Linked DNA regions of Homo sapiens. The protein of the gene in region 1 purifies or fractionates together with the protein of each later gene. This does not show direct contact. Each region holds a gene or a part of one and is shown in the gene's direction. Other genes may lie near its edges.

Region 1 (5,288 bases):
GTCATGGTGCTTTTTTATCCTCTCTGCCCAAAGAAGGAAAGCTCTTAACAGCCAGCAGGAGGCTTTGTAGGGACCAGCGTTATCAACGCCAGTCGCGCTGACCAATGATGAGTTAAAGCAGTTAGGTCGTTTCTAAGAGCAAATCAAAAGCTAAGGTTCTGTGATTCTGAAAATGAGACACGGACAGAGACTGGAGACCCAGAGAGAAAGTGAAGGACTAAAAGACAGTCATAGGGTGGGAGTTTGCTCTCCTCTGTTTTGTTCTGGGTTTTTTTGTTTGTTTGTGCGCTCTGTCTGACCGCTTTTCTTTTTTTTCTTTTTCTTTCTTTTTTTTTTTTTTTTTTTTGAGATGGAGTCTTGCTCTGCCGCCCAGGCTGGAGTGCGGTGGCACAATCTCGGCTCACTGCAAGCTCCGCCTCCCACGTTCAAGGGATTCTCCTGCCTCAGCCTCCCGAGCAGCTGGGATTACAGGCATGCACCACCACACTCAGCTAATTTTTGTATTTTTAGTAGAGATGGGGTTTCACCATATTGACCAGGCTGGTCTTGAACTCCTGGCGTCAAGTGACTTGCCCGCCTCGGCCTCCCAAAGTGTTGGGATTACAGGCGTGAGCCACCGCGCCTGGCCCTGACTGCTTTTCTCTTGGTTTGTTTCTCAATCCCCCTTCCTCTGAGCCGAATTCCCTTTTTGTTCTCATTTTCTCTCTCTGTCCCCTCTCTCTCTCCTTCTTTCTCTCCTTCCATTCCTCCTAGATGAAGCAAAAACTCAGATAAACCAGCACAGAGGCCAGGTATGGTGGCTCACACCTGTAATCCCGGCACTTTGGGAAGCCAAGGCAGGCAGGTTGCTTGAGGCCAGGAGTTCAAGACCAGCCTGGCCCACATGGTGAAACCCCGTCTCTACTAAAAATACAAAAATTAGCCGGACATGGTGGCACGTGCCTGTAATCCCAGGTACTCAAGAGGTGGAGGTTGCAGTGAGCGGAGATCACAGCCCTGCACTCCAGCCTGGGTGACAGAGCGAGACTCCATCTCAAAACGAAAAACAAAAAACAGCACAAAGTTCCCTTGTCCTGTGACTCATTCTCTCTCTCTCTTTCTACCATTTCTCCTTCCCTGTGTCTTTTTTTTTTCTCTCTGTGGGTTTTATTTAAGCAATAGAAGTTCTTAGCAAAGAAAAACTTTATGGAATTAGATTGATCCACTTCATATGTACATATATGAACTCAGTTCAGAAACTCTCTTCTACCCCTGCCTGATCACCTATTTGGAAGTCTGTTCCTTCAACTCTTCTTCTCTTTCTGGGACTCTTTCTAGCTTGGGCTTCCTGCCCCTCCCGTCCACTCTCCTGCTTTCACAGCCTCTCCTTCCCCCTGCCCCTCCCCTGCACTGCATGGGGATGGGCCCCAGGTGTCCAAGGTCTCCCCACCCTCCTTTGTCACTGGAGTCAGGATTAGAACCCAGCTCCCTAGTCACCTTGAGTCATCAGTCCTGGGGCTGCTGACGGGCTTGCAGAGGAGAGAGGGAGTGGGGCTGGGTCTTCCCACCCTGGGTCCTTTCCTCCTTCCCCACTCCGTTTAGCTGTAAAGCTCAATTAAGTGTGATTAGCTGAGAAGAGTTTCTGCAGAATTAGAGCACGCCCCACCCCTGTCTTCGTGGTCCCCTTCCCTTAACCCGGAAACTGGATGGGCCAGGACAAAGAGAGTTAAGAGCTTTGTCAGTGGTCTGTCTGGAGCGACAGATGGAAGGAAAGGGACCGGTTGAGCAACATGACAGGTGGCTGAGGAGCCAGGTGCAGAGTGGTAGAGTTGGCTGGCGGAGTGGCCAGCACATGAGAAGACAGGCAGGTAGGTGGACGGAGAGATAGCAGCGACGAGGACAGGCCAAACAGTGACAGCCACGTAGAGGATCTGGCAGACAAAGAGACAAGGTGAGAAGGAGGTAGGCGACTGCCAATGAGGGAGTGACACACAGGGGAGCAGGTAGAGAGAGGACAAGCAGGTCATCCCCTTGGTGACCTTCAAAGAGAAGCAGAGAGGGCAGAGGTGGGGGGCACAGGGAAAGGGTGACCTCTGAGATTCCCCTTTTCCCCCAGACTTTGGAAGTGACCCACCATGGGGCTCAGCATCTTTTTGCTCCTGTGTGTTCTTGGTGAGTTCTCCCGGAGCAGGGAGAGGGCAGGACTGCGACTGGATCCCTTCACCCCCATGAGGAGGCCCCACCACCCTCCCCATCTCAGCTCTGGCCCCCAGCCTGGTGGTGAGGAGGAGAGGGGCTTTCTCTGTGCCTCCATTTACCTGCAGCTCTCAGGGTACTGCTCACCTCGGTCTCCCCTATTTTTTGATCCCTCTTCCCTTCTGTCCCTCTCTGAATCTCTGTCTCTCCATTTCCCTCCTATGTGTAAGCATCTTTCTCCCTGGGTGTCTTTGATGTTTCATGGTCTTTTTCTATCACTGGGTCTCTCTCTCTTTCTCTCTCTTTCTCGTCTCTCTTTCTCCTCTCTCTCTCCTGCCTGTTTCTCTCTCTCACTCTGTGTGTCTCTCCATCTCTGTATCTTTTCTTCCTCTCTCTGACCCATGCCCCTGTCTGTCTCCAGGGCTCAGCCAGGCAGCCACACCGAAGATTTTCAATGGCACTGAGTGTGGGCGTAACTCACAGCCGTGGCAGGTGGGGCTGTTTGAGGGCACCAGCCTGCGCTGCGGGGGTGTCCTTATTGACCACAGGTGGGTCCTCACAGCGGCTCACTGCAGCGGCAGGTAAGTCCCTTCCTGGGGTGGGCGAAGGGAGGACTATGGGAAGGCAAGCGCTGGGGGTAGGATCACAAGGGAGGGTGGTGCCCACTGGGAAGAAGCTGATCCTGCAACAAGAGAGTCTGAGGTTAGACCAGGAGTGGAACTTCCTTAGCAGTGGGCCTGGGGTGGTGCTGGGCAGGGTGAGGTATGTTGGGTGGAGGGCCGGGGAGGGTCCTGGAACCTGCCCTCCTGCCTCTCCCATTCCTGCATGTACCCTTTCTTTCCTATATGACATCTGCCACTCACCCCAGCCATTCCTTGACCCAGTCTGGGCCCGGGGCCCAGGTCTCACCCAAGCTCTTTTTCTTTTTCTTTTTTTTATTTTTTTGAGACAGGGTCTCGCTCTGTCGCCCAGGCTGCTGTGCAATGGCGTGATCACAGCTCACTGCTGTCTCTGCCTCCCAGGTTCAAGTGATTCTCCTGCCCCAGCCTCCTGAGTAGCTGGGATTACAGGCACCCGCCACCATGCCCAGCTAATTTTTGTATTTTTTGTAGAGACAGGGTTTTGCCATGTTGGCCAGGCTGGTCTCGAACTCCTGGCCTCAAATGACCTGCCCGTCTTGGCCTCCCAAAGTGCTGGGATTACAGGTGTGAGCCACTGCACCCGGCCAACATGACCCAAACTCTTTGTGCAACTTCAGAATCTATGCCTGGCACCTCTCTGGGCCTCAGTAGACTGATGTTCTGGAATTTTTTTCTTTTTCTTTCTTTTTTTTTTTTTTTGGAGACAGAGTCTTGCTCTTTCTGTCATCCAAGCTGGAGTGCAGTGATGCTATCTTGGCTCACTACAGCCTCAACCACCTGGGCTCAAGTGATCCTCACACCTCAGCCTCCCAAGGAGCTAAGACTACAGGCCTGCGCCACCACACCTGGCTAATTTTTAAATTTTTTTTGTAGAGACAGGGTTTTGCTATGTTACCCAGGCTGGTCTCAAACTCCTCAGCTCAAGCAATCTTCCTGCCTTGACCTCCCAAAGTGCTGGGATTACAGGCATGAGCCACTGTGCCTGGCCTGGAACTTTTTTTGTGAAAGGGGAGATCAGATGCAAAGAAACAGAGACTCAGGGAGAGAGAGGGCCAGCAGCAGGATGCAGAGAGGCCATTCATCAACCCACTCGTTCAATCATGAACCCACTCGTCCACGCATGAGCATGGAGGGCACATGCTCCGTGCCAGGCGGTGGGAATAAGGCAGTGAACAAGGTCCACTGATGTCCCTGCCTTCATGGGCTTCACCAGCCGAGAGAATCAGAAAGAGAGGCCTGGCGCGGTGGCTCACACCTGTAATCCCAGCACTTTGGGAGGCCGAGGCGGGCGGATCACTTGAGGTCAGGAGTTTGAGACCAGCCTGACACACATGGTGAAACCTTATCTCTACTAAAAATACAAAAATTAGCTGGGCATGGTGGCATGCTTCTGTAATCCCAGCTACTTGGGAGGCTGAGGCAGGTGAATTGCTTGAACCTGGGAGGTGGAGGTTGTAGTGAGCCAAGATGGTGCCACTGCACTCCAGCCTGGGCGACAGAGCGAGACTCGGTCTTGAAAAAAAAAAAAAAAAAAAAAAGGAGAGAGAGAGACACAGATGCAGGGACATGGTAGGAGAAACAGGGAACACCCAAGATGGAAAGAGGGTGATGGAGGTTGGGAATAAGAGCCTGTAAGAGAGACTCGGAGAATGAGAGTTGCGGGTGAGAGGACAGACAGTGAGGGGCAGAACAGTGGGGAGCGGCAGGAGCGCCTGAGTGTCCGTGGAGGGGTGCAAGGTGGGGGACTGCGTGCCTGCCACCCGCTCAGCCGTCGCCACCGGCAGCAGGTACTGGGTGCGCCTGGGGGAACACAGCCTCAGCCAGCTCGACTGGACCGAGCAGATCCGGCACAGCGGCTTCTCTGTGACCCATCCCGGCTACCTGGGAGCCTCGACGAGCCACGAGCACGACCTCCGGCTGCTGCGGCTGCGCCTGCCCGTCCGCGTAACCAGCAGCGTTCAACCCCTGCCCCTGCCCAATGACTGTGCAACCGCTGGCACCGAGTGCCACGTCTCAGGCTGGGGCATCACCAACCACCCACGGAGTAAGGGGCCCAGGGCCAGGGGTCAGGGGTCAGGATGGGTACAAGTCTGGGATGCAGGGCGAGAGGTCGAATCATGACACCTCAGAGGAAGGATGGGTAAAGGGTCAGGGTGTGGGATGGGACATCAGGATCATGGTTTGGGGTCAGAGATTATGGTGGATTGGGGTCTTGGGAGCCAAAGGGGTTAAAGGACTGGGTATGAAGTCAGGGATCAGAGGTCAGAGGTCAGAGTGTGTCAGAGGTCATCACACTGGAGCAAAAGGCATATATATATATATATGTATGTATAGGATATGGGCATTGTGGGTCATGGGTCTGGGGTTAGAGGTCACCGTAGAATTAAGGTCATGGGATCCAGAGGTTGTACAATCTGGTCAAAATCTGAGGATGGAAATTGGGATTCTATCCAAAATCACATATCTGAGATT
Region 2 (4,517 bases), on another chromosome or scaffold:
TTGGGAAATGCCTCTGCCCTCATCTGGGCAGTTCTGATCTGTGTTCATGGGTTATTTTTCCCATTGTCAGGGTGAGGCATTCACTCTTTGGGGAAGTGAGGAAGCTCATCACAGACGAGTTTGTGAAGCAGAAGTAAGTGGTGTTTGGGGCTTTGTCTGGCCCTGAAGTGTTCTGGGTATACTGATCTGGTTCAGAAAGTGCTTAGTCAGTGCCTTTCTTATACTAGCTTTAGAGGGATGGGCATCCTGTGTCCTAGAACTGATACTGTCTAAAATTCCCATGGGCAGACCTTTCCAGGACTGGGCCAGACTCAACACAAGGCCCTTGCAGTGGGGTGCGCTCAGAGCAGAGGGCCTTAAGAATGGCTCCTCTGTTTACAACACACCCAACAGGAATCTGGGCTTACTCCTCACAGGTGGCATGATACTTTGGCCTTCCTGTGACATCATGCCCTATACATGTCTCCCCTGGAGAAGCCCAAGGGACTGCTTTGCACAGGGCCAGTGGGAAATGGCTCAGTATTGGAGGCCAAGACCATAAACTGTGTTTGGTAGTGAGTCTGGGGCTGGAGGGTCTTAGAAATCCCTCTCCAGGGGCTGTTTGTATTTGTTTGGAGGAGGTTGCCACCTGGTGTCTAGTGCTTAGACAGCAGGGTTGCTTGGTTAGAAACAAGTTTCATTTCCTTTTTCCAAGGTACCTGGAGTACAAGAGGGTCCCTAACAGCAGACCACCTGAATATGAGTTCTTCTGGGGCTTGCGCTCCTACCACGAGACTAGCAAGATGAAAGTCCTCAAGTTTGCATGCAGGGTAAGAGGAGAGCTGCCCGAGCTTGGCATATTAAGGCAATGGGATACCCTTGGCTGGGGCAGGCAATGCACAGGGATGGGCAGGTACAGAGCAGCCTGCAGCTCATATATAAACATGTGGAGCCTCCTTTATGTCCCAGGGTGCTGCTAGATATATAGTTTACATCATCTCATTCATTCTTCATACTTTGTATTAATCAGCATGGGCTGCCATAACAAAATACCATAGACTGGGTGGATTAAAAAACAAATTTATTTTCTCATAGTTCTTGAGGGCGAGAATCCTAGGTCAGGGTCCACGAGGGTCAGTTCCTGTTGAAGGCTCTCTTCCTGGCTTGCAGATGGCTGCCTTCTTGCTGTGTCCTCACATGGCTTTGTGTGTGAGAGAGAAGAGAGCAAGCTTTCTGGTGTCTCTTCTTATAAGGACACTAATCCTGTTGATCAGGACCCCACCCTTATGGCCTCATTTAACCTTAATTATCTCCATAAAGGCCCTATCTCCAAGTACAATCACACTGGGTGTTAGGGATTCAACATACGAATTTGGGGGCGGGCACAACCCTTCAGTTCATAACATATTTACGCTCTATCATTTCCTGTAATTATAAAGACACTTAGGCTAAGTGAGGTTAAGTAACTTGTCCAAGGTCATATAGCACGTAAGTCAGCAGAGCTGAAACTGGAGTTCAGAACTGACCCATGATAGAGCCCCAATAACTGAGAAGTTTAAAAAAGTATTGCTACTAGTTTAATACAAAGCCCGTAGGTTAATACATGATTACTAGGGTTGTTTTCTTATTATGATTATCATCCCCATTTCAGGTGCAGAAGAAAGACCCCAAGGACTGGGCTGTGCAGTACCGCGAGGCAGTGGAGATGGAAGTCCAAGCTGCAGCTGTGGCTGTGGCTGAGGCTGAAGCCAGGGCTGAGGCAAGAGCCCAAATGGGGATTGGAGAGGAAGCTGTGGCTGGGCCCTGGAATTGGGATGACATGGATATCGACTGCCTAACAAGGGAAGAGTTAGGCGATGATGCTCAGGCCTGGAGCAGATTTTCATTTGAAATTGAGGCCAGAGCCCAAGAAAATGCAGATGCCAGCACCAACGTCAACTTCAGCAGAGGAGCTAGTACCAGGGCTGGCTTCAGCGATGGTGCTAGTATTAGCTTCAATGGTGCACCCAGCTCCAGTGGTGGCTTCAGTGGTGGACCTGGCATTACCTTTGGTGTTGCACCCAGCACCAGTGCCAGCTTCAGCAATACAGCCAGCATTAGCTTTGGTGGTACACTGAGCACTAGCTCCAGCTTCAGCAGCGCAGCCAGCATTAGCTTTGGTTGTGCACACAGCACCAGCACTAGTTTCAGCAGTGAAGCCAGCATTAGCTTTGGTGGCATGCCTTGTACCAGTGCCAGCTTTAGTGGTGGAGTCAGCTCTAGTTTTAGTGGCCCACTCAGCACCAGTGCCACTTTCAGTGGTGGAGCCAGCTCTGGCTTTGGAGGCACACTCAGCACCACGGCTGGCTTTAGTGGTGTACTCAGCACTAGCACCAGCTTTGGCAGTGCACCCACAACGAGCACAGTCTTCAGTAGTGCGCTTAGCACCAGCACTGGCTTTGGAGGCATACTCAGCACCAGTGTCTGTTTTGGTGGCTCTCCCAGCTCCAGTGGTAGCTTTGGTGGTACACTCAGTACCAGTATCTGCTTCGGTGGCTCTCCCTGCACCAGCACTGGCTTTGGAGGCACACTTAGCACCAGTGTCTCCTTTGGTGGCTCTTCCAGCACCAGTGCCAATTTTGGTGGTACACTAAGTACCAGCATCTGCTTTGATGGCTCTCCCAGCACTGGTGCTGGCTTTGGTGGTGCTCTCAACACCAGTGCCAGCTTTGGCAGTGTGCTCAACACCAGTACTGGTTTTGGTGGTGCTATGAGCACCAGTGCTGACTTTGGCGGTACACTAAGCACCAGTGTCTGCTTTGGTGGCTCTCCTGGCACCAGTGTCAGCTTTGGCAGTGCACTCAACACCAATGCTGGTTATGGTGGTGCTGTCAGCACCAACACTGACTTTGGTGGTACACTAAGCACCAGCGTCTGTTTTGGTGGCTCTCCCAGCACCAGTGCTGGCTTTGGTGGTGCACTCAACACCAATGCCAGCTTTGGCTGTGCCGTCAGCACCAGTGCCAGCTTCAGTGGTGCTGTCAGCACCAGTGCTTGCTTCAGTGGTGCACCAATCACCAACCCTGGCTTTGGCGGTGCATTTAGCACCAGTGCTGGCTTCGGTGGGGCACTTAGTACCGCTGCTGACTTCGGTGGTACTCCCAGCAACAGCATTGGCTTTGGTGCTGCTCCCAGCACCAGTGTCAGCTTTGGTGGTGCTCATGGCACCAGCCTCTGTTTTGGTGGAGCTCCCAGCACCAGCCTCTGCTTTGGCAGTGCATCTAATACTAACCTATGCTTTGGTGGCCCTCCTAGCACCAGTGCCTGCTTTAGTGGTGCTACCAGCCCTAGTTTTTGTGATGGACCCAGCACCAGTACCGGTTTCAGCTTTGGCAATGGGTTAAGCACCAATGCTGGATTTGGTGGTGGACTGAACACCAGTGCTGGCTTTGGTGGTGGCCTAGGCACCAGTGCTGGCTTCAGTGGTGGCCTAAGCACAAGTTCTGGCTTTGATGGTGGGCTAGGTACCAGCGCTGGCTTCGGTGGAGGACCAGGCACCAGCACTGGTTTTGGTGGTGGACTGGGCACCAGTGCTGGCTTCAGTGGCGGACTGGGCACCAGTGCTGGCTTTGGTGGTGGACTGGTCACTAGTGATGGCTTTGGTGGTGGACTGGGCACCAATGCTAGTTTCGGCAGCACACTTGGCACCAGTGCTGGCTTTAGTGGTGGCCTCAGCACCAGCGATGGCTTTGGCAGTAGGCCTAATGCCAGCTTCGACAGAGGACTGAGTACCATCATTGGCTTTGGCAGTGGTTCCAACACCAGCACTGGCTTTACTGGCGAACCCAGCACCAGCACGGGCTTCAGTAGTGGACCCAGTTCTATTGTTGGCTTCAGCGGTGGACCAAGCACTGGTGTTGGCTTCTGCAGTGGACCAAGCACCAGTGGCTTCAGCGGTGGACCGAGCACAGGAGCTGGCTTCGGCGGTGGACCAAACACTGGTGCTGGCTTTGGTGGTGGACCGAGCACCAGTGCTGGCTTTGGCAGTGGAGCCGCCAGTCTTGGTGCCTGTGGCTTCTCGTATGGCTAGTGAGGTTTCAGGTAACTGCAATATTTCCATAGCCAGGACCCACAGGGATGGGTACAAGAGCTGGGAGATGTTGTAAGAAACACTAAGGCAGGACAGCAGGGTGGAAAGGTGAGGGCAATTAAGGAATTATGAGAAGACAGTGTATTTGGTGCTAAAATGTGTTCCTATTTGTTTTGTTTTCAGATTTATTCCCCATGTTTACAGATACCGCTAATAAATTGCAGTAGTCCTTCCCATGGAGCCAAAGTACATCCTTGGAATCTTTGTCCACACAGCAGTCAAGGCAGTTATGGCCAATCAGCTGAGGGTGTCATGTGATGGAAAAATCTGTTTGCTGTTCCTGCTTTATTGTTTGCTTTCTGTGTGCTGTCATATTTTGGTATCAGAGTTACATTAAATTTGCAAAATGAATTGGAGTTTTTTCTGTCTTTTAATGTGCTTAGGTAGTTGTGGAGTGGCATCTTGGGTT
Region 3 (4,517 bases), on another chromosome or scaffold:
GGAAGCTGAGTCTAAGTTTTAGCATTATCTGAGATTTGTAATTAATTCACATATTACCCTAAGGTAGACGTAATCTTCAACATACACAGTATCAAATGTAAAAGTTACTGGTTAAGTTAGAGTCTCTTACTAATATCACAAATATTTCTGTTCTTAGAATGATCTTCTGGATGTAGTGGCAAGTATTGACTTATCAAGAAAGACAGTCAAGAGGATTCGGATAAATTTTGTCTTTGCTCTAATTTATAATCTGGTTGGAATTCCCATAGCTGCTGGTATGTGACTCTTAACTAGTACTGCTTTTTCCACTAAAGTTATTAGAGACCTAACATATTGGAAGCCTGTCTTCTTACTATTAGTTTTGAGCTTAGTTTTTGTTTGTAGCCTACTGGTATGGTGAGAGGTAATGTTAAAATCAATCATTTTAATTTTCAGTAATGTTTGTTATAGCTTAAGAATATATAAGCATTCTGACAGATTTATTTTTTTCCCTCCAACTTTTTTTTTTTTTTTTTTGAGACAGAGTCTCACTCTGTTGCCCAGGCTGGAGTGCAGTCATACAATCTCGGCTCACTGCAGCCTCCATCTCCTGGGTTCAAGCAGTTCTCCTGCCTCAGCCTCCTGAGTAACTGGGACTATAGGTGCCCGCCACAACGCCCAACTAATTTTTGTATTTTTAGTATAGACGGGGTTTCTCCATGTTGGCCAGGCTGGTCTCGAACTCCTGACTTCAGGTAATCCACCCACCTCGGCCTCCCAAAGTGTTGGGATTACAGCTGTGAGCCACCACTCCCAGCCTTCAACTTTGTATTTTGAAAAATTTCAAACTTGACACCTGTAATCCCAGCACTTTGGGAGGCTGAGGTGGGCGGATCACCTGAGGTTGGGAGTTCAAGACCAGCCTGACCAACATGGAGAAACCCCGTCTCTACTAAAAATACAAAATTAGCCGGGCGTGGTGGCACATGCATGTAATCCCAGCTACTCGGGAGACGGAGGCAGTAGACTCGCTTGAACCCAAGAGGTGGAGGTTGTGGTGAGCCAAGATCGCGCCATCGCACTTCAGCCTGGGCAACAAGAGCGAAACTCCGTCTCCAAAAAAAAAAAAAAAAAAAATTCATACCTCCAAAAACATTGAAAAAAATGGTACAATAAAAATCTGTATGCCTTTCACCTAAACTCACCAACTGATGGTATTTTGCCACATTGCTTCATCTCTTTCTGCATATATTTGCACAGAGATATGTATTTGTTTGCTTATTAATTTTTTTCTAAATAGATTTACCTTTAATCTGACTACCCAAACCCAACACTGTTTGCAAGATTAATTCATGGAGCAAATGATTTTTAAAGAATTATACAAGTATTTTCCTCTAGTCTTTTTTTTACTCTACATCAGTTTTTGTCTTGTTACATAGTTGTGATTGTAGCTTATGGAGAATTTTCTGCTCTTCACTTAATATTCTATTATAGTCAGCTGGTATTTTTTTTAGGTTGAGAGACCAGATGACAGAGAGAGTGAACAAAGCAATATAACTGAGAAAAAAGAATTTAGAGTTATTTAATAAGCATCTGAGAATCTCCTAAACTTAGGGACCTGGTAGGAGTTAGTAATGATGACATAAAAGAAATAAGTATTGTTTTCTTCTTGTTCTCTCTGGTTTGAGGGCCAAGGAAAGACAAGAAATGACATGAGAACAATTACAAAACTGTTTATCAGCAAGGACACACAAATACTGAGAGAACAAAGAACAAAAGAACAATCTAAGTCCAGTAAGATTAATTCATGGAGCAAGTGATTTTTAAATAATTATACAAGTAATATATGATCACCATAGAAAAAGTAGAAAAATATAAAGAAGCACATAAAAAGTTAAAAGTATGAGTCTATTTCATCCTCATCATGTGAGCAAACATTCTTATGTCTGTGAAAACCAAGTGTGGATGAGTTTGTAGAACATGAACTCCCATACGCTATTGGTTGGATTTTGAATCACTACAGCCACTTTGGAGAACAGCTGAGGAATATCCACGTAAAGTTGAAGATGTGCCCATGTTATGACCCAGTAGTTTCACCCCTAGGTATATACCCCACAGAAACTCTCAAACATGGACACGGGGAGACATGTACAAGAATGTTAACAGCAACACTCTGTTAGTGAAAAAAATGGCAACAACAAAAATCTCTACCACCAAGAGGATAAATGCTGAAGAAGTATCAAACAAAGAAATGATTTGTATGTATGTTAGAAACACATTAATAATCTGTTTAGTATTATCTACTCTAACTAATCCATACTTGTTTCTTAGGAGTTTTTATGCCCATTGGTTTGGTTTTGCAGCCCTGGATGGGATCTGCAGCAATGGCTGCTTCATCTGTTTCTGTAGTACTTTCTTCTCTCTTCCTTAAACTGTAAGTATGATAGCTTGCTCACATTTGTATTTTGTATTCCTGTTATCATCTAGTCATTCTTGGTAGGTTTTATTCTTGTATTGATCAATGATAAGCCCAAACCATTCTTAATGAGAATTATTATTAGCGGCCGGGCGTGGTGGCTCACACCTGTAATCCCAGCACTTTGGGAGGCCGAGGTGGGCAGATCACCTGAGGTCAGTAATTTGAGACCAGTCTGGCCAATATGGTGAAACCCTATGTCTACTAGAAATACAAAAATTAGCTGGGCATGGTGGTAGACACCTGTAATCTCAGCTACTCGGGAGGCTGAGGCAGGAGAATCACTTGAACCTGGGAGGTGGAGGTTGCAGTGAGCTGAGATCGTGCCACTGCACTCCAGCCTAGGCAACAGAGTGAGATTCCATCTCAAAAAAAGAAAAGAATTATTATTAGCTAACAGTAATAATTAGCTATGTAATTGTTACTTCGTGTACTTTATGCATAGCAACCACAAGCACTGAGTGGGATAAAATATAGTGCACTAATTCTGAGAAGTAGGGTTTCTGATGATATAACTCCACACAATTCGTTTCAAGCTATTTTCCTACCAGTGATCACCTTTATACATTTCATACCAAAACTAAGTGTGGATGAGCAAATCTTCTTTCTTTTCTGCATGTAGCGAGCATCTCATTTACTTTTGGTTATTTGAAACTAGCATACTTTTGCATATGTCCAGTTACAGGAAACCAACTTACGAGAGTTATGAACTGCCTGCCCGGAGCCAGATAGGACAGAAGAGTCCTTCAGAAATCAGCGTTCATGTTGGAATAGATGATACCTCAAGGAATTCTCCTAAACTGGGTTTGCTGGACCGGATTGTTAATTATAGCAGAGCCTCTATAAACTCACTACTGTCTGATAAACGCTCCCTAAACAGTGTTGTTACCAGTGAACCTGACAAGCACTCACTCCTGGTGGGAGACTTCAGGGAAGATGATGACACTGCATTATAAAAGGCCATGGAGAGTGCTGCCAGTTTAACTTGTCATGCACTGACACAGCATTCATGATGTTACCTTCACTTTTCAAAATATTGTAGAAGGATTTTTCTCATGCTCTTATATTAGGGATTCTATTTGAGTTGCGTTTATCTGTTGGCAAAAATATCTTTTTCAAGGCATCAGCTCTGAACCTAGCTTTATTTAAACTGAATTTCCAGTATATTTTTGTTTTCACTAACAACAGATAAGGTAGAGCAGTGAGGTTTACAACAAGCCCTACAATTAGAGATTGCTGAACTGCTGCTAAAGTGATTTTTTTTTTATTTGACCAAAAAAAAAAAGGCCCAAGAAGAAGAAAATGAAAAATTTGAAGATTTGAGAGCATGAAGATATTCATGCTTTTGAACTCAAAATATTGAAGATACTCTCAAGCCTGTATCCCTGCCCCACTGGGGAGCAATGACTTTCAAAGCACTGTGTATAAAACATCTAGTTTTAGAAGGGAAACAGTTGAAACTGTTTAAAAATAGATGTGCCTTATTTATTGCAGGCTTTCTTTCCCCCATTCTCCCTGCATCCTTGTCCTTGCAGGTGCTTTTTTAGATGCTCCAATATGTCTTCTTTTGTTATTTTCTTTCGAGCTAACCAAGTTTAGGTGGTTTTTCATTGATTAAAAATAACTGACAACTGTTCTAATATTTTGCTCCTTTTTAAATTTTGTAGCTCAAAAGACCTTAAAGGTCTGTAGGGTTCCCTGCCTCCCATCTTTCCACTGTTGTAAAAAGTATATCAAATTATTCCTTCAAGTTTCCTAGCTCTGTGCTCAGTTTCAGTTCACTCCTGCCAAGTTGGACTCTAAGTTATTCTTCATGTAGTCTGCTGATCTCAGTCTGGAAACTTAACATTATGAGCCTTTTCTGCTCAAAAAATTTTCAAAGATTAAAACTATTATACATATACAGGTCATATAAAATTACCTGGATTCACTAAATTTGTTTGTTGTTGTTGTTGTTGTTGTTGTTGTTGTTGAGACAGAGTCTTGTTTTGCAGCCCAGGCTGGAGTGCAGTGGCACCATCTTGGCTCACTGCAACCTCTGCCTACCGGATTCAAGGAATTC
Region 4 (3,269 bases), on another chromosome or scaffold:
TCCCCCCTGCACCCCTCTCCCCAGCTCCTGGTCCCCCCACACCTGCCCCGGAATCCCATACTCCTGCACCCTTCTCTTGGGGCACAGCCGAGTATGACAGTGTGGTGGCTGCAGTGCAGGAGGGGGCAGCTGAGTTGGAAGGTGGGCCATACTCCCCCCTGGGGAAGGACTACCGCAAGGCTGAAGGGGAAAGGGAAGAAGAAGGTAGGGCTGAGGCTCCTGACAAAAGCTCACACAGCTCAAAGGTACCAGAGGCCAGCAAAAGCCATGCCACCACGGAGCCTGAGCAGACTGAGCCGGAGCAGAGAGAGCCCACACCCTATCCTGATGAGAGAAGCTTTCAGTATGCAGACATCTATGAGCAGATGATGCTTACTGGGCTTGGCCCTGCATGCCCCACTAGAGAGCCTCCACTTGGAGCAGCTGGGGATTGGCCCCCATGCCTCTCAACCAAGGAGGCAGCTGCCGGCCGAAACACATCTGCAGAGAAGGAGCTTTCATCTCCTATCTCACCCAAGAGCCTCCAGTCTGACACTCCAACCTTCAGCTATGCAGCCCTGGCAGGACCCACTGTACCCCCAAGGCCAGAGCCAGGGCCAAGTATGGAGCCCAGCCTCACCCCACCTGCAGTTCCCCCCCGTGCTCCTATCCTGAGCAAAGGCCCAAGCCCCCCTCTTAATGGTAACATCCTGAGCTGCAGCCCAGATAGGAGGTCCCCATCCCCCAAGGAATCAGGCCGGAGTCACTGGGATGACAGCACTAGTGACTCAGAACTGGAGAAGGGGGCTCGGGAACAGCCAGAAAAAGAGGCCCAATCCCCAAGTCCTCCTCACCCCATTCCTATGGGGTCCCCCACATTATGGCCAGAAACTGAGGCACATGTTAGCCCTCCCTTGGACTCACACCTGGGGCCTGCCCGACCCAGTCTGGACTTCCCTGCTTCAGCCTTTGGCTTCTCCTCATTGCAGCCAGCTCCCCCACAGCTGCCCTCTCCAGCTGAACCCCGCTCGGCACCCTGTGGCTCCCTTGCCTTCTCTGGGGATCGAGCTCTGGCTCTGGCTCCAGGACCCCCCACCAGAACCCGGCATGATGAATACCTGGAAGTGACCAAGGCCCCCAGCCTGGATTCCTCACTGCCCCAGCTCCCATCACCCAGTTCTCCTGGGGCCCCTCTCCTCTCCAATCTGCCACGACCTGCCTCACCAGCCCTGTCTGAGGGCTCCTCCTCTGAGGCTACCACGCCTGTGATTTCAAGTGTGGCGGAGCGCTTCTCTCCAAGCCTTGAGGCTGCAGAACAGGAGTCTGGAGAGCTGGACCCAGGAATGGAACCAGCTGCCCACAGCCTCTGGGACCTCACTCCTCTGAGCCCAGCACCCCCAGCTTCACTGGACTTGGCCCTAGCTCCAGCTCCAAGCCTGCCTGGAGACATGGGTGATGGCATCCTGCCGTGCCACCTGGAGTGCTCAGAGGCAGCCACGGAGAAGCCAAGCCCCTTCCAGGTTCCCTCTGAGGATTGTGCAGCCAATGGCCCAACTGAAACCAGCCCTAACCCCCCAGGCCCTGCCCCAGCCAAGGCTGAAAATGAAGAGGCTGCGGCTTGCCCTGCCTGGGAACGTGGGGCCTGGCCTGAAGGAGCTGAGAGGAGCTCCCGGCCTGACACATTGCTCTCCCCTGAGCAGCCAGTGTGTCCTGCAGGGGGCTCCGGGGGCCCACCCAGCAGTGCCTCTCCTGAGGTCGAAGCTGGGCCCCAGGGATGTGCCACTGAGCCTCGGCCCCATCGTGGGGAGCTCTCCCCATCCTTCCTGAACCCACCTCTGCCCCCATCCATAGATGATAGGGACCTCTCAACTGAGGAAGTTCGGCTAGTAGGAAGAGGGGGGCGGCGCCGGGTAGGGGGGCCAGGGACCACTGGGGGCCCATGCCCTGTGACTGATGAGACACCCCCTACATCAGCCAGTGACTCAGGCTCCTCACAGTCAGATTCTGATGTCCCGCCAGAAACTGAGGAGTGTCCGTCCATCACAGCTGAGGCAGCCCTCGACTCAGATGAAGATGGAGACTTCCTACCTGTGGACAAAGCTGGGGGTGTCAGTGGTACTCACCACCCCAGGCCTGGCCATGACCCACCTCCTCTCCCACAGCCAGACCCCCGCCCATCCCCTCCCCGCCCTGATGTGTGCATGGCTGACCCCGAGGGGCTCAGCTCAGAGTCTGGGAGAGTAGAGAGGCTACGGGAGAAGGAAAAGGTTCAGGGGCGAGTAGGGCGCAGGGCCCCAGGCAAGGCCAAGCCAGCGTCCCCTGCACGGCGTCTGGATCTTCGGGGAAAACGCTCACCCACCCCTGGTAAAGGGCCTGCAGATCGAGCATCCCGGGCCCCACCTCGACCACGCAGCACCACAAGCCAGGTCACCCCAGCAGAGGAAAAGGATGGACACAGCCCCATGTCCAAAGGCCTAGTCAATGGACTCAAGGCAGGACCAAGTAAGTATATCATGAAACTTGGCAGAGAGTGTGGGTTAGGGCTGGGTGTGGGCTGGTCAGACTTCAGGAGTGGGACAGAGGGGAAGGTTGCCAAAAGGGTTCTACTTTTCCTCTACAATGAATCCTGGCTTGTCTCTACAGTGGCCTTGAGTTCCAAGGGCAGCTCTGGTGCCCCTGTATATGTGGATCTCGCCTACATCCCGAATCATTGCAGTGGCAAGACTGCTGACCTTGACTTCTTCCGTCGAGTGCGTGCATCCTACTATGTGGTCAGTGGGAATGACCCTGCCAATGGCGAGCCAAGCCGGGCTGTGCTGGATGCCCTGCTGGAGGGCAAGGCCCAGTGGGGGGAGAATCTTCAGGTGAGTAGCAAAGGACACCAAGGAAGTAGTCTGGTCAACGCTCACTCAGAGGCAGTAGTGGAACACAGTCCCTATTTATTAAAGGATGGGCCTTTTCTAAGGGCAGCAGAGCTGCTTCTGAGACCATGAGGTGCCCCTTCCCCCTCACCTACCTTCCCTTTATGTTCTCACATCAGACATATCTTATCTCCCTTCTAGGTGACTCTGATCCCTACTCATGACACGGAGGTGACTCGTGAGTGGTACCAACAAACTCATGAGCAGCAGCAACAACTGAATGTCCTGGTCCTGGCTAGCAGCAGCACCGTGGTGATGCAGGATGAGTCCTTCCCTGCCTGCAAGATTGAGTTCTGAAAGAGCCGCCCTCCCTTCCCCAAGGATCCACTCCCCCAGCTCCTTTAGAGAATGGCTACTGCTGAGTCCTTT
Region 5 (5,222 bases), on another chromosome or scaffold:
CACAAGGTCAGGAGATTGAGACCATCCTGGGTAACACGGTGAAACCCCGTCTCTACTAAAAATACAAAAAATTAGCCGAGCGTGGTGGCACGCGCCTGTAGTCCCAGCTACTCGGGAGGCTGAGGCAGGAGAATCACTTGAACCCGGGAGGCGGAGGTTGCAGTGAGCCTAGATCACACCACCGCACTCCAGCCTGGGCGACAGAGCAAGACTCCATCAAAAAAAATAAAAAATAAAAGAAATGCTATGGAAGAAGTAATAGAATATGCTATGGGAGAGTTTGGAAGAGAAATACACATAGAGTTATACTAATAACCAAAATCCTTTATTGACCATTTATCATGTGCTTGGCACAATTAGCTTAATCCTGAGTCTTAATTGTCAGGATCTTACATTATAAGATAGACAAAAATTCAACGCATGCTTTACTAAGTACCGTTTGTATCAGTGGGTAAAGCACTGTGTTTGGTACTCTCTCAAATGCAAAGATGATTACGACACATGTACTATCGTTTATGAATGGGTGGCCAACAGAACAGATTGCCGCATAGGTAAGCAGAAATCTGCTCTCATTCTCTATTGGCCACAAGCAGGCATGTCTTAGGAGCAGAAGGGTAGGAAGATCTCTAACTGTGCTTGGAAACTTGGGGAGTTACCACGTCTGGCTAAAGTGGTATTGTCTTAAGGAAAACCTATGAATTTGCCTGCGTTGGCTTGGTGCTGAGGAAAGTGGAAGAGAGAGGCTGGGGTACACCTTTCAACATGAATGGAACTGACCACTGGAGGGAAAGAACAAGAAACAGCAGTGAGAACAAGGAACAAAGACCATCCAGCCCCTCACCCACCTGGGGGGAAGTGAGGGGAGATGGGCAGGGTGACAACGTGGCCAACATCTAAAGTGTGAAGAGGGGCTTTTACCAAGTGCCCACCCCTTCCCGAGCAGGGGGCAACCAACAGCATCTGGCGGGTCTTACTACTGGGCAGAGGCAGGGGAACCCTGGTATGAGTTCTGGATTACATAGGAGATGTGACTTGGACACGTTTGGGGCTTAAAAGTAGGAAGGGATCAAGGGGGGAGATTTGAAAATCCCGGTGGAGGTGCGAGGTATCCGGGGAGAGGGTAAAAACGGGAACAGTCTTCAGCACCTGCCTGTACCAGGAGCTCTGTGTATGCCATCTCATTTCCGTCTCCAGCAACCAGGCGGGCCTTGGCGGCAGGAGGCACAGGCTTTGGGAGCAGAGGCCCTGCAGCTTGCCAAGCACACACGGCCCTAGGGCGCCCAGCTGAGACGGCACCTTGGCACCCGGGCCCGCTGCAGCCCGCTCCGGTCAGCTGCACCCCAGTCAGGAGCCTTTCCAGCGGGTCGGAGGAGAACGGAAGTTTGGGGAGACCCGCGCGATTCGCCTGGCTGCATTTTACATTTCTTTCTCCGGCAGCTGGGGTCACGAAGGCTGCTCTCGCCGGCGGTGTTGGAACGTGGACACGTGCGCTTTGGTAATAGGGCAGCCTCCCCCGCGGGCGCAGTCCCCGCTGCGAGCGCCCCCGGCTGCTGAGGCGGGACCGAGGACCCGGAGATTTGAGCCGCGGGTGGGCGGGGAGGGGCCTTTGTGACCTGCCCGCCCCTCCCCGGCACTGTGATGCCGGGGGGCAGCTGCGGGCCCGGCGCGCCTGTCCCCGGCGTCCCCCCCTCCCGGTGTGTCACAACGGCGGAGGCGGCTGTATCTGGAGCAGTCGGGGCGGGCAGGCCCAGCTGAGAGGTGCGCGGGCGAGGACAGCGGCAGCGATGGTGAGGCTTCCCGGGGCCAGGCGGGCTGCGGGCGCGCGGCAGGCGTAGGACCGAGAGCCGAGTCTACGCGGAGGCGCACGGACCCGTCTTCCTGGAGCCGCAGGGCTCAAGGCCTTCTGGGGGTGGCAGTTCAGGGTCGAGGAGTCCGCACCCTCGGGCGGGAACACCCGGTGCCCTTTATCGTATGGGGGAAATAGAGACCAGGGGCCAGTTGTTCCTTAAAGGGACCTAAGGGAGCTTTGCGTGCAGACGAGGGGGAGGGAGGCCCTGGGGAGCCCGACGGAGAAGGGGGCGAGATTCTGGGGTCCCCAGATGGGCAGCCTGTGGACAGAGTGGAGAGAAGGGCGAGTCCGGGGATTCTGGATGGGTGGTCTGGGCCGGGGCGACTGGGGGGCCAGATGCAGTCACGTCTCCGAACCCAGCCTAATGTGACAGGGCCCGGAATGTGACAGAGGACCTAGGGCGCCACGGTCCCCCCACGCGTGGAGGTCTTTCTCGCAAGCCTGGCCAGCGGCTTGGGTTTGCTGCACGCACAGCCCCAGCGCGGCGGGGTCCTCCGGGCGCACTCAGCAGCTCCCAAGTCTTTCCAGCGGTCAGAGTCGAAGGACTTTGGGAGTAAGAAGTCTCTGCTTCCAAAGGCCAGGGGACCTTCGACCTGTTTCCTACCCTGGCTTAGGGGGATCGCGGCTGCTCCCTTCCCTGCCCCCGCCCCTGGATCTTACTGAGGGGCGGCTGCAAACACTCAGTTCCTCTTTCTAGGGTCCCCCTCTCCGCCCCCAGTGCCCCTGGTGGTTAACATTTGCCCCCAGTCCACTTTCCCAAAGCCCAGAATCCCAGGAATCCCTCCTGGACCCCTGATCTTTCAGCAGTAGGGAGATGGGCTGGAAAGATTGGGGGCAGAGTGAGGGCAGAATAAGCCTATGTCATGGCCAAGGTCGGGTTCCCTGGGCAGGCTTGCTCCAGGTGTCAGTGATCCAGAAAGCAGGCGAGAACCCCCTCCGCCCCGCCCTGTTACGTTTGGCCCGTGCCCAGGGCCTCCTGGCTCCCCCGGAGCTCTAGCCTTCCAGCTTCAGTTTTGTCAGCACCCTCCCTCCTCCTAGCGGGCTCCCAGACACCCCTGGGAACTGAAAGAACTTGGGAATATTAGGGAGGGTGGCCACAGGAACCTATTTCTGCCTGAGGACCCTGGTATGAGGCCACACAAAGGGCCCGGAGCTGCCAGTTCAGAATTTTGACTCCTGGCTCTGCAGCTAGCTGTGTGACTTCAGGAAGGTCACTTAACCTCTCTGGATGTGTTTGTTTTACCTGCGAAATGAAGAGGGTTATAATTCAAATTTCCAAGACTCCACTTAGATTTCATTATTTTTAAACTTTTTATGGTAGGGAATTTCAAACATATGCAAACGGAGAGCAAATGGTATAATTAGCGATTATATACATCATCTAAGTTCAATAATTACCAACTTCTGACCTGTCTCACTTCATTTATTCCCTCCCTCCATAATTTTGAAGCAAATGCTAGGCTGCATACTCTAGAATTGATATTTAATATTTATAATATCTAGCAGGTAGCTAGTGTTTTAGGATTTTCCAAGTGCTTCCCTTGCATGCTTTAATTTGGATCTGAATGCCATTGTGGTACAGAGTGGAGCCCAGAGGATGTTTACAGGGGCGTGTCGAGGATCTTAACCCAGCCCTGTGCACAAGCTTGAATGTGTGATCCACAGACGTGTTTCTGACAATGCCTGGTAAATCAACAATTCAAACAGCAAAACTTTATTTTGAACGTGCTTAAGAATTTGGGTGTTTAGCTGAAAACCTATGGTTAAATATTTTGAAATGCGACCACCTTTCATTTATTTTGAAACACTCAATTTTGTCTAGTAGGTTCTATCTAGAACATTTAACTTGTGTGCGTTGCACTGTCTTGATGGCTAATATTTTTTGTTGAACATTTTACACTCACAGAAACTTTTAAAATATCATTTGGCTCATTTGTAAAAGGCTAAAATGACACATCTATAAACCTAGACCCCTAGAATCTCACCCTTACAAAAATGACTGTATTTCTTCTAAGGATTAAGTTTCAGGCTGCTGTCCTGTCCCCTTCACTTCCCTCCCTGGTGGGGGTTTGGGGGAGGTGACCTTGGTGTTAAGGAGAATTCGATTTGGAATTTCTGTAGGCTCTGGGCAAGAAAAGTGTAACTAATCCTTAAGTGTATTTTTAAATGCATTTCTCTAGCTGCTAGGCAGATGAGCATTTTTCCTCTGTGAACTTACCCCCAACCCCTTCTCCCCAGCTACCCACTGCACGGTACCACCAATACCCTTTAGCATTTCTGTCCTGGAGCCTAAAGTGACACAGCTGGTAAGAAGCTGCGTAGGGGCTGGAGTTTACATCTGCTGGGCACCAGAGCCTCTGTCCTGAGCCACCTGCCCGTGCTGGGACCGGCAGGCTACTCCCACAGCAGACCATTCCCATCCATTCCCAGTGTTCTAGCACGCAGCTCTCTGGGAACTCAGACTATGACACCTTTTTTGGGAAGTGGTATGGAGAATCCTGGCCAGGTGCCCTAAGCCAAGCCCATGCCAATGATACCAGGGCACAGAGAAGTTTTCTGTGGTTTATGGGGAGGTGGGAACATCTGCAACACGGCTTCTTTAACTCCATTCCGTTAGGACTGGAGAGCACGAAGGAGCCCGTCTCCCTGCAAAAATGGGCAGTTAGAGGGTTCTGGGGGCCAAATGGACACCCTTCTGCCTGCAGCCTTCTGCAGTCTCCCCATGTAGACAGGCATGGCCAAGCTCTGTGGAGTTGATAGGTGTATTCTGACCTCAGAGCACTGTGTGGGCTCCCAGGGGCTGCAGGTCACTGCTGCCTCCTCCTCCCCTCCCATCACAAAAGGCAGGTTTCCCGAGAAGCACTGGGCGCATGCCTCCGAGTGAGGGGCCTTGGCTCACAGGGCAGCGGCTGGGGCAGAGCTGCTGGATTGGTGAGTCCATTGGGAGCCCCCAGCCTTGGGTCAGGCCCATACAGAGCTTGGGGTGGGGGTTAATGCCACTGTTGAATGTGCTTTCTCCTAGTGACCTTCAAAGGGAGATGAAAGTTAAAAATAATTTTGGTGGGGGAAATAGCTGGTGGATAGCGGGCCAGTGATGGGGGTGGGCAGGAGGATGTGGCACTGTCGGGGGGAGGAAGCAGACCAAATGCTCCTTTTCCCTCAAGCCGCAAGGGACGGACAGCACTATCTGTGGCCTTTGTGGTTGGCATTTCCCCTGCAGTGTCTTCCTGTTAGGAGTTCTCTCAGATAATAAGCTGCAGAAGAGAGCAGGAGATGGAGCAGGCACTGTGTGCATCGGATTGAAACTCCTAAGTGTCTCTTGCACCTGCCCCAGTGCCAGCCACAGCCCAGGCCTTCAACGCCCTCCGGCCTC

What was found.
Region 2: the proteins of KLK12 (region 1) and TRO purify together in Homo sapiens (affinity purification with mass spectrometry; one large-scale study listed by BioGRID and IntAct). This does not show direct contact.
Region 3: the proteins of KLK12 (region 1) and ATP7A purify together in Homo sapiens (affinity purification with mass spectrometry; one large-scale study listed by BioGRID and IntAct). This does not show direct contact.
Region 4: the proteins of KLK12 (region 1) and MAP1A purify together in Homo sapiens (affinity purification with mass spectrometry; one large-scale study listed by BioGRID and IntAct). This does not show direct contact.
Region 5: the proteins of KLK12 (region 1) and TUBA8 purify together in Homo sapiens (affinity purification with mass spectrometry; one large-scale study listed by BioGRID and IntAct). This does not show direct contact.

What each region holds. Positions count from the first base shown.
Region 1 is NC_000019.10:51,031,448-51,036,735, reverse strand, and holds the start of KLK12 (kallikrein-12 isoform 2 precursor), read left to right. Parts: upstream 1-1,733; 5' UTR 1,734-1,930; exon of another isoform or gene 1,931-1,941; intron 1,942-2,095; 5' UTR 2,096-2,114; coding exon 2,115-2,151; exon of another isoform or gene 2,152-2,311; intron 2,312-2,596; coding exon 2,597-2,756; intron 2,757-4,600; coding exon 4,601-4,860; intron 4,861-5,288.
Region 2 is NC_000023.11:54,926,973-54,931,489, forward strand, and holds the end of TRO (trophinin), read left to right. Parts: intron 1-70; coding exon 71-133; intron 134-332; exon of another isoform or gene 333-463; intron 464-694; coding exon 695-809; intron 810-1,630; coding exon 1,631-4,048; 3' UTR 4,049-4,059; intron 4,060-4,231; coding exon of another isoform or gene 4,232-4,366; 3' UTR 4,367-4,459; downstream 4,460-4,517. UniProt on the Homo sapiens protein: Could be involved with bystin and tastin in a cell adhesion molecule complex that mediates an initial attachment of the blastocyst to uterine epithelial cells at the time of the embryo implantation. Directly responsible for homophilic cell adhesion.
Region 3 is NC_000023.11:78,043,160-78,047,676, forward strand, and holds part of ATP7A (copper-transporting ATPase 1), read left to right. Parts: intron 1-157; coding exon 158-275; intron 276-2,310; coding exon 2,311-2,413; intron 2,414-3,134; coding exon 3,135-3,411; 3' UTR 3,412-4,517. UniProt on the Homo sapiens protein: ATP-driven copper (Cu(+)) ion pump that plays an important role in intracellular copper ion homeostasis.
Region 4 is NC_000015.10:43,527,028-43,530,296, forward strand, and holds part of MAP1A (microtubule-associated protein 1A), read left to right. Parts: coding exon 1-2,481; intron 2,482-2,622; coding exon 2,623-2,843; intron 2,844-3,041; coding exon 3,042-3,197; 3' UTR 3,198-3,269. UniProt on the Homo sapiens protein: Structural protein involved in the filamentous cross-bridging between microtubules and other skeletal elements.
Region 5 is NC_000022.11:18,109,082-18,114,303, forward strand, and holds the start of TUBA8 (tubulin alpha-8 chain), read left to right. Parts: upstream 1-1,727; 5' UTR 1,728-1,784; coding exon 1,785-1,787; intron 1,788-5,222.